2 linked regions of the Homo sapiens genome follow. The protein of the gene in region 1 purifies or fractionates together with the protein of each later gene. This does not show direct contact. Each region holds a gene or a part of one and is shown in the gene's direction. Other genes may lie near its edges.

Region 1 (3,831 bases):
GAATTGGTTTTGCCACATAACCACTGTCAAAAAACCCATCATGCTCTGTTTTAGGATCTTATCTTACAAGTACTTGTCTTGCAGTCAAAATAAGCAAGAGAAGAGTGAAGCCAGAGAAGCACTACAGTGCCGCTTCTCCTCTGTCGTCATCTTCACCAGAGGCAGATGACTTCTTTATAGCAAGGCCCAGCCACATTTCACGGGGCAAGCAGTGGTTTAAGTGGTAGGGCTTTAGTGAAACATGTATGTCTTCCTTTCTCCTGCCTTGAAGCCAGAGACATTACTAGAAAGAACTCTTGGCCCTGTTAAGGGTTCCCAGTGTGGTGTGCTGTTGCTTAAATAAGCAGGTCATAGAGTTGGCTCAGATTTAAGGGATTTAAGGGAAATAGATTACATATCCAATAGGAAGGGCTGCAAAGAGCTTATGACCATGTTTAAACCCCAACCTGTGTATGTATATGTATGCATATCCCATCAGTACACACACACCTCTCTGCAAATAGGTGTTTGTGTGCACACACACCTCTCTGCAAATAGGTGTTTGTGTGCACACACACTTCTAAATTTTAGATAGCTAGAAGTAGTTTAGGTTAGTTTTCTTCTGGTGTCAGTTATTTTGCTTCATTGTTTTCCAGAATGCTTTGGAAAGTTTTCCTGAACTAACAATAATTACTCGAGATTCTAAAGCAAAGAGTGGAGGAACTGCTATTTCTAAAATCAAAATGAATGGCAAAGCCTATAATAAGAAAACTCTAAGGACTTCTAAAACAACCACCAAATCTGCACAAGTAAGTGTAATTGATTATTAATGTAACTATACCTTTTCCAATTGTTAATACAATTCCTACTTAAAACATTGAAACAAGCAAATATTTTACTATGTTGTCATTAAGTGTGAAGGTTTTTCAGGTAGGAATAAGCGTCACTGGCCTGAGGAACAGGGACGCATGGTGGTTTATTGTTTTTCTATAGCACAGTATCAGGCATATAATATGTGCTCACAAATTTCTTAAATTGACTAATATGGAAGAAATCATCTCGTGCTCATGTTTATATATTTGTAGGTAGTTTTTCATTTTTTAAATTGCATATATTATGTACAAAATGTTTTGAAATGTGTGTACATTGTGAAATGGCTAATTCAAACTCATTAACATATGCATTACTTGTAATATAGGTATATTTTTAATTGTATATGCATGCACATAGATAAGTAAGTGTGCAGAACACATTCCATAAAAAGATGAAATGTTTATTTCATATCTGCAAAGTCATTAAAATTGGAATTTGTTCATCTTCAAACATAGTATAAATTGTTATAACCTTTTCAGAAAACAGTTTGGCAACATATCAACTTCACAGCAAAAATGTATTCAGGGCTAAGCACAATGGCTCAAGCCTATAATCCCAGCACTTTGGGAGGCTGAGGCAGGAGGATCACTTGAGTCCAGGTGTTCGAGACCAGTCTTGGCAACAAAGCAAGGCCCCATGTCTACCCTGGGGGGAGAAAAAAAAATTAGCCAGGCATGGTGCCATGCACCTGTAGTCCTAGCTACTTGAGAAGCTGAGTGGGAGGATCGCTTGAGTCCAGGGAATTGAGACTGCAGTGAGCTGTGATTGCACCCCTGCACTCCAGCCTGGGTGACAGAATGAGACACTGTCTCAAAAAAAAAAAAAAAAGTATTCTGTAGAAATAGATTCAGAAATGCATAAAAATACATACCTTTGCTCATTGTGGAATTGTTTGTAAGAGCAATCCAATTATGTACCACCAGTGTGAGGTTAGATAAATGAAGAGCCACGTAATGTCATACTACGTGCTTTTTATAAAGAAGAGATAGATTTGTTCATTCTTTCAGAAAAATTTTTTTGAGTGCCTATAGTATGCCAAGTACAGTTCTAAGTACTAGAGATACAACAGTGAAAACTGGTTAAAAGTCCTTACCCTCATATAGTTTGTATTTGGGGAGGATGGGGAGGGACAGCTATATGTACTAAATGAAAAGATAGCCAATTATTAGTTAGGTCAAAAAACACGTTGGAAGAAAGAAGAAAAGTTGCTAGACAATATGTATAGTGTGATTCCCTTCTCATTACAAAATTAGTGTTATTAACATACATGTTATACCTGGGGGAAAACATTAAAAAATATATAACATGCCATTAGCTTTGTTTAGCTCTGAAGCAGGAGATTATAGGGAGCTTTTATTTTATAAATCATCTCATATGTTTATTGTTTAAATTTTCCTATAATGCTTAAGTTTTTTCAATAATGCATATTTATATGCAGGATAAAGAATAAGATTTTAAAATATAATTTAAATTCTTATTTTGAATAAGTCTCTCCATATTAACCCAACTGAATACCTACCCATATATGTCATTTTCAACATTGCCATTGAGACTTTTGATCTAGTATTTTCCTCAAAGTGTTCTTAGCTCAGATACTCCATGAAATGTATCTATAAACTTTTTTCTTTTTATAGGAGTTTGCTGTCGATCCAGAGAAAATACAGTTGTATTCTTTGTATCATTCACTCCATCATTATAAGTACCATGTTTATCTGATATGTAAGGATGAGGTAATTTCTTCTCATTTACTTAAAAAAAATGTTTTTCAGAATGTTAAGGAGACTCTAGCCATAGTATTTTGGAGTGTTTTAAAGAGAGTTGTGAAATACATGTGTGTATGTATTTTGTCTATGTATTCTGTAAATAATGACTTGATTTATTGTTCTGAGTCTCTCTGCTATGTTTTGTGCTCAGATTTACCCGAGCCTCACCACCTCTTGTAGGAGCTATAATTGGTAATGTTTTGAAGCTGTTGGTGCTTGCTTTACATCGCCATAATAAATGATGTTTTATTGCATTTTGTTCTCTCACAGTGTATGATGATCTTGCTTTAATTCACTTCAGTCACTGCTTTGACATCTCACTGCCTTACTTATTACTTAGAATGGCCTTATCCCACTTAATTGCAGAGAAGTGGGGTTTTGTGCCTTGGCATGAAAAACTGAAAGTTAAAATTTAATTGTAGCTTTTAAGTTGTTCAGAGATTATACATGACAAAATATCACCTCATGGATGGGATATAAGCATTAATTTCCACAGCCATGCTAAATGGTTGTAGACAATACTACCTTATTTGACCAGCACTATCACTTCTTTTCATTATAAAGGGTCCAAGGCTATATCTAATGTGTTTGACAGTAGTCTGGTATGGAAAGATGCTCATAAATCTAACCTTTATATAGCAAAAGAGAAAGCAAAGATGGTGATGCAACATAGGTTCACTGTTTTTACAATGCTCTAAAATGCAGAATCGACTCCAAAATTTGTCATTTGACTTTTAACGTAATTGGAAGAAATGGAGAAAGTCTGAAGTACTTTTTCTAGCCTTCCTTTCTGCCACCTTGGAGCCAAAGATGAGAGGATGAGATCTCACCCAAATTTAGCTGAAATAATCATTCTCCATGGATAGGATTAAGAAAAAAATAAAATACCAGTACTTGTAGTTGAACTTAAATATGATGTGATAAGTATAAGCTAATTTGGCGATTTTCTTTTTTTAGATTTCTTCGGTGCAGAAAAAAAATGAAGATTTAGGACAGGAGGAAATTGTTCAACTTTGTATGAAAAATGTAAAATGGGTGGAGGACCTCTTTGAAAAATTTGGAGAACTTCTAAATCATGTACAGCAGAAATGTTCCTGACTTTTCCACAAAAATCCCATCTTTTTATAGCACTAATGAAATGGCAGATATGGGGTGGTCAAAGATAATCAGATGTCAAGTAGTGGCCTTCTGCAGGCCGGCCGCTTCCATCATGGAA
Region 2 (3,831 bases), on another chromosome or scaffold:
AAGATATTTATAAATGTTATGTGTCCTCTTCCTGTATTTCAATTTACCTCTTAATTTTGCTTAAATAGGAGTACATTTTTTATTCCATCAAGGTATATTTGTTTTATCAAGAGGTATCAATTCATAAGCATATTGATGGCAACATTTATAGCAAGATGTGCTCATCTATCCTCAAGCTTTTCTGTACTAATACTTAGGAAACTTGCTATTTCTTCCTATTTTTCAACTAGCAGGCTGTGAGGAATGCTGAATACTAACTTGGGGCCTGAACTTTCTAATCTGTTAAAGATTGAAGATTGGGATCTGATGATATTGAGGTAGCTTCCAGAATTAGAAATTTTTTTAACATTGAAACATCTAGAATCCTGTTAACATTGAGGTTGGTTACAAGTTCAAGAAGCCAGTTGGGAGAGGAATATTAAACAAATTCGGGAAGATTAAAATATTTTCCCCAAATCATGCAAATGACAAAGAAAAGTAATCTAATGTCTTTCATTCACCAGCCAACAATAAAAATGCATAGTACTTTTTAAGATCTCACCTAAATAGCACAGCCTTTTAAATACCTTTTATATGAAGGCAAAGAAAATACTTACTATGTTAAAACATGTAGTACACTCACTTTTTAATGCTGGTAACAAATAACAATAAATTCATTTCATTTAGCATTTTATGGTTTAGAAGAAAATCTGAGTAGACTCAAAGCAAATCAACTGGACCCTACTGCCCAGCTTCACACTTTGTTAGCTACCTGATTTGAAACAAGTCACTTAAATTTGACCTTCACTTTAATAAATTCTAAAGAAGGTTGGGCCAAGCATGATAGCTCATGCCTGTAATCCCAGCACTTTGGGTTGCTGAGGCAGGACGCTTGCTTAAGCCCAGGAGTTTCAGACCAACCTAGACAACATAGTGAGAATCCCACTCTACAAAACATTTAAAAACTAATTGGGCATGGTGAAGCACACCTGTAATGCCAGCTACTTGGGAGACCAAGGCAGGAGGATCGCTTACGCCTGGGAAGTCAGGGCTGTAGTGAGCCATGATCGCATCACTGCACTCCATCCTGGGTGGCAGAACAAGACCCCTTCTCTCCAAAAAATTAAATAAATAAATAAATAAATAAATGAGGGTTGATAATGCATGATCTATTTATTTCATAAGGTTGAGATTAGAATTATTTATTCATTGCAAAAGGTTTATTTAACACACTAGTGTTCCAAACACAGAGAATCCTTAGATGAATTGTTTATGCCTTTGAGGAGTTTAAGACTTTGTTGGGTGAGACAGATACATAAATAGCTACTAGAGCACAAATTAGTTGTGCCTACCCTAAACTGGGTTATAGTGAAAGTGGAAATAGCCTTCCAGCCTTGATGTGAGAGAGATCGTGTGGGGAGGAAGCCTTCTAGGGTGGGAAATGTGTTCAGGGTTGGGAGGTAGGGGATATTAGGTCCTCATGTGACATCTTTTCTTCATAAGGGCCAGCAGGCAGCATGGGTTACACAGACTGAGTAGAATTTTGACACTAAACTGAGAACAAAAGTATAATATTTTTGGAGAAAAATATTCACTTTAAATAGTTACTCGTGGCGAATATTCCTAGTCCCCTCTAGATAACTTCTTTTCACAAAAATACTGGGCCCGTATTTTTTTTTCTCCGTGTGTTATCCTATAAATACCAAGTGAAGAGTTTAATGGTTTATGTTTTCCTTGTTTGGTGAGGCTCGTATTCGTAGCCATTGTTTCTGCTGAAAGCATTATGAACTCCTAAATTAGTTAATGGAAAGGAAGAAGACAGTATGAGTTACTATAGCATGCATTTAATTAAAATTATGATTTTGTTGCATGTTAATAAGTTGCTTTTCTTTTTTAAATTTCATTTGAATTCTAGGCACATTCAAAGCAATAATCAACCTCCACAGCCTCCAGTTCCACCGTTAGGTTATGTGTCTGGAGCCTTGATTTCTGATTTGGAAACGGATGTTGCAGATGATGATGCCGACGACGAAGAGGAAGCTTTAGAAATCCCCAGGCCCCTGAGAGCACTGGACCAGACTCCTGGATCCAGCATGGACAATCTAGACAGCTCTGTGACAGGTAACGGAACCAATTTAATAGGAAAAACTGACCTATTGGTAACATTAAAATGCATCAAAAGTCAACTACTTCCTTATTGTAAGATTTATTCCACTCCATCTATTTCTGTAACATTTTAAATGTGTTAATATTAAATACAAAATTCAAAAAGGATTTGGAAATACTTTTGCTTTGCTGCAAAAATGATAAGAAAATTCATGAATTTTAAAAAGCTTTAAAGACATGAAAGAAAACTCAATTATATCTAGGGCTTTCATGAGAAGTTCACTCTACTAGGAAACCAAGTCTATTACATTAAAAACCTTGACTTTTAGAAATGATCTTTTTTATATATATCAGGAATAACATATGAAGTGAATGCAATCTTAAAATGCTTCTTGATATTTCACTCTGTAAAATCATTCACTGATGGAAAGTAAGCACGTCTCCTGAATAAGCCACTTTAAGGTTGCACAAGGTATTATTTTTAGAATGAAGAAAATGTGTAGTGAGATAAACCATATGTTTATGCATTTCACATTGCTGCATCTAGTAAATGCTTCTCTTCCAAGAAATGCAGTTATTTTTTCTGTTTATTTCTTTGGCTTCCTCTTGCCTTGTTCATCAAACGAAAGAGTTGCATTGGTACTCTTCTATGATGATCCCAGGACTAAGGTATAACCTATTTTCAGGGATTTAAATGTACCAATTTTTTTAAAGAAAACTTTAAATCCTAAAATGGACACAATGAATTTGGAGAAAACTAAAAATTCAGTCTTTCTATTCAAATAGATATACACTGTTGGACACACAAGAAAATGCCTCTTACATGACTGTGTAGACCGAGCTACTACAAACTGAAGTCTGGTCTCTGCATTTCACTGGGTCTTCTCAGAAGACCACTCATATCTGTATTTACCGTGATGACATCTTTCATCCTAGGAGATATTTTACCACAATCCCGCTTAATTCATTTTTATGCCAACAGCTTCCAAACTTTCACAGATTTTACACAATGTGTTAGAGTTCTACAAACACTGATGGGAACTGGTTTATGACAGGATAAAGCAGCATCAGCGCCTATGATTTTCCTCTGTATTCCTCCCTGAATTACTCAATGTGTGATGCATGAGCCCATTTTTCAGTTTTTCTTCTTATCCAGGGGCTGGTCTGCTTGCCAGCCTAATTAAGATTTAAGAGCTGCAGATACACCGCTGTGATTTGAAATCCAGATCCAACCGAAGGTGACAGAGCACAAGTTAAAATCTTCAAATGCAGAGAGCTGACTTATTAGTGCACTATTATGTTAAGCCCCTTTGCCTGAATTTCCAGCATAATCTCCTTCAGGGTAAAATTCTGCATATTTTTGCATATTTCACTAATGATACTGAACTCTTTTCCATTAGGAATGCAGTAACAAATTGCAATAATGATGAAAAACAGTCAGCTATAGTCTGTGTAGTTCTTTTATTAAATATTATAATGTCAAAGATGATAAATACGTCTATAAATCAAGAGAATGCCATTTTGCACTTTTACATGCTCACCTGTGACATGTTAGGCTGCCTGATGTGACTGCAGCTCAAGCAGTCTGTATTTCTCCTGTAGCTAGTGTAATGTTCATTCCAAATGAAGCTTTTATTGCTGAGAAAAAAAGTCTGGTTTTCTCCTTGAATTCACTGCTTAATTACTGCCATATATAAAAACCTCAGGGTGTTTAAGTTTGTATTCCATGATGAGTTTATCCTATGA

What was found.
Region 2: the proteins of QSER1 (region 1) and ROBO2 fractionate together in Homo sapiens (co-fractionation; one large-scale study listed by BioGRID). This does not show direct contact.

Annotation. Positions count from the first base shown.
Region 1 is NC_000011.10:32,972,762-32,976,592, forward strand, and holds part of QSER1 (glutamine and serine-rich protein 1), read left to right. Parts: intron 1-635; coding exon 636-788; intron 789-2,486; coding exon 2,487-2,582; coding exon of another isoform or gene 2,583-2,795; exon of another isoform or gene 2,796-2,869; intron 2,870-3,572; coding exon 3,573-3,713; 3' UTR 3,714-3,831. UniProt on the Homo sapiens protein: Plays an essential role in the protection and maintenance of transcriptional and developmental programs.
Region 2 is NC_000003.12:77,620,333-77,624,163, forward strand, and holds part of ROBO2 (roundabout homolog 2 isoform 23 precursor), read left to right. Parts: intron 1-1,894; coding exon 1,895-2,100; intron 2,101-3,831. UniProt on the Homo sapiens protein: Receptor for SLIT2, and probably SLIT1, which are thought to act as molecular guidance cue in cellular migration, including axonal navigation at the ventral midline of the neural tube and projection of axons to different regions during neuronal development.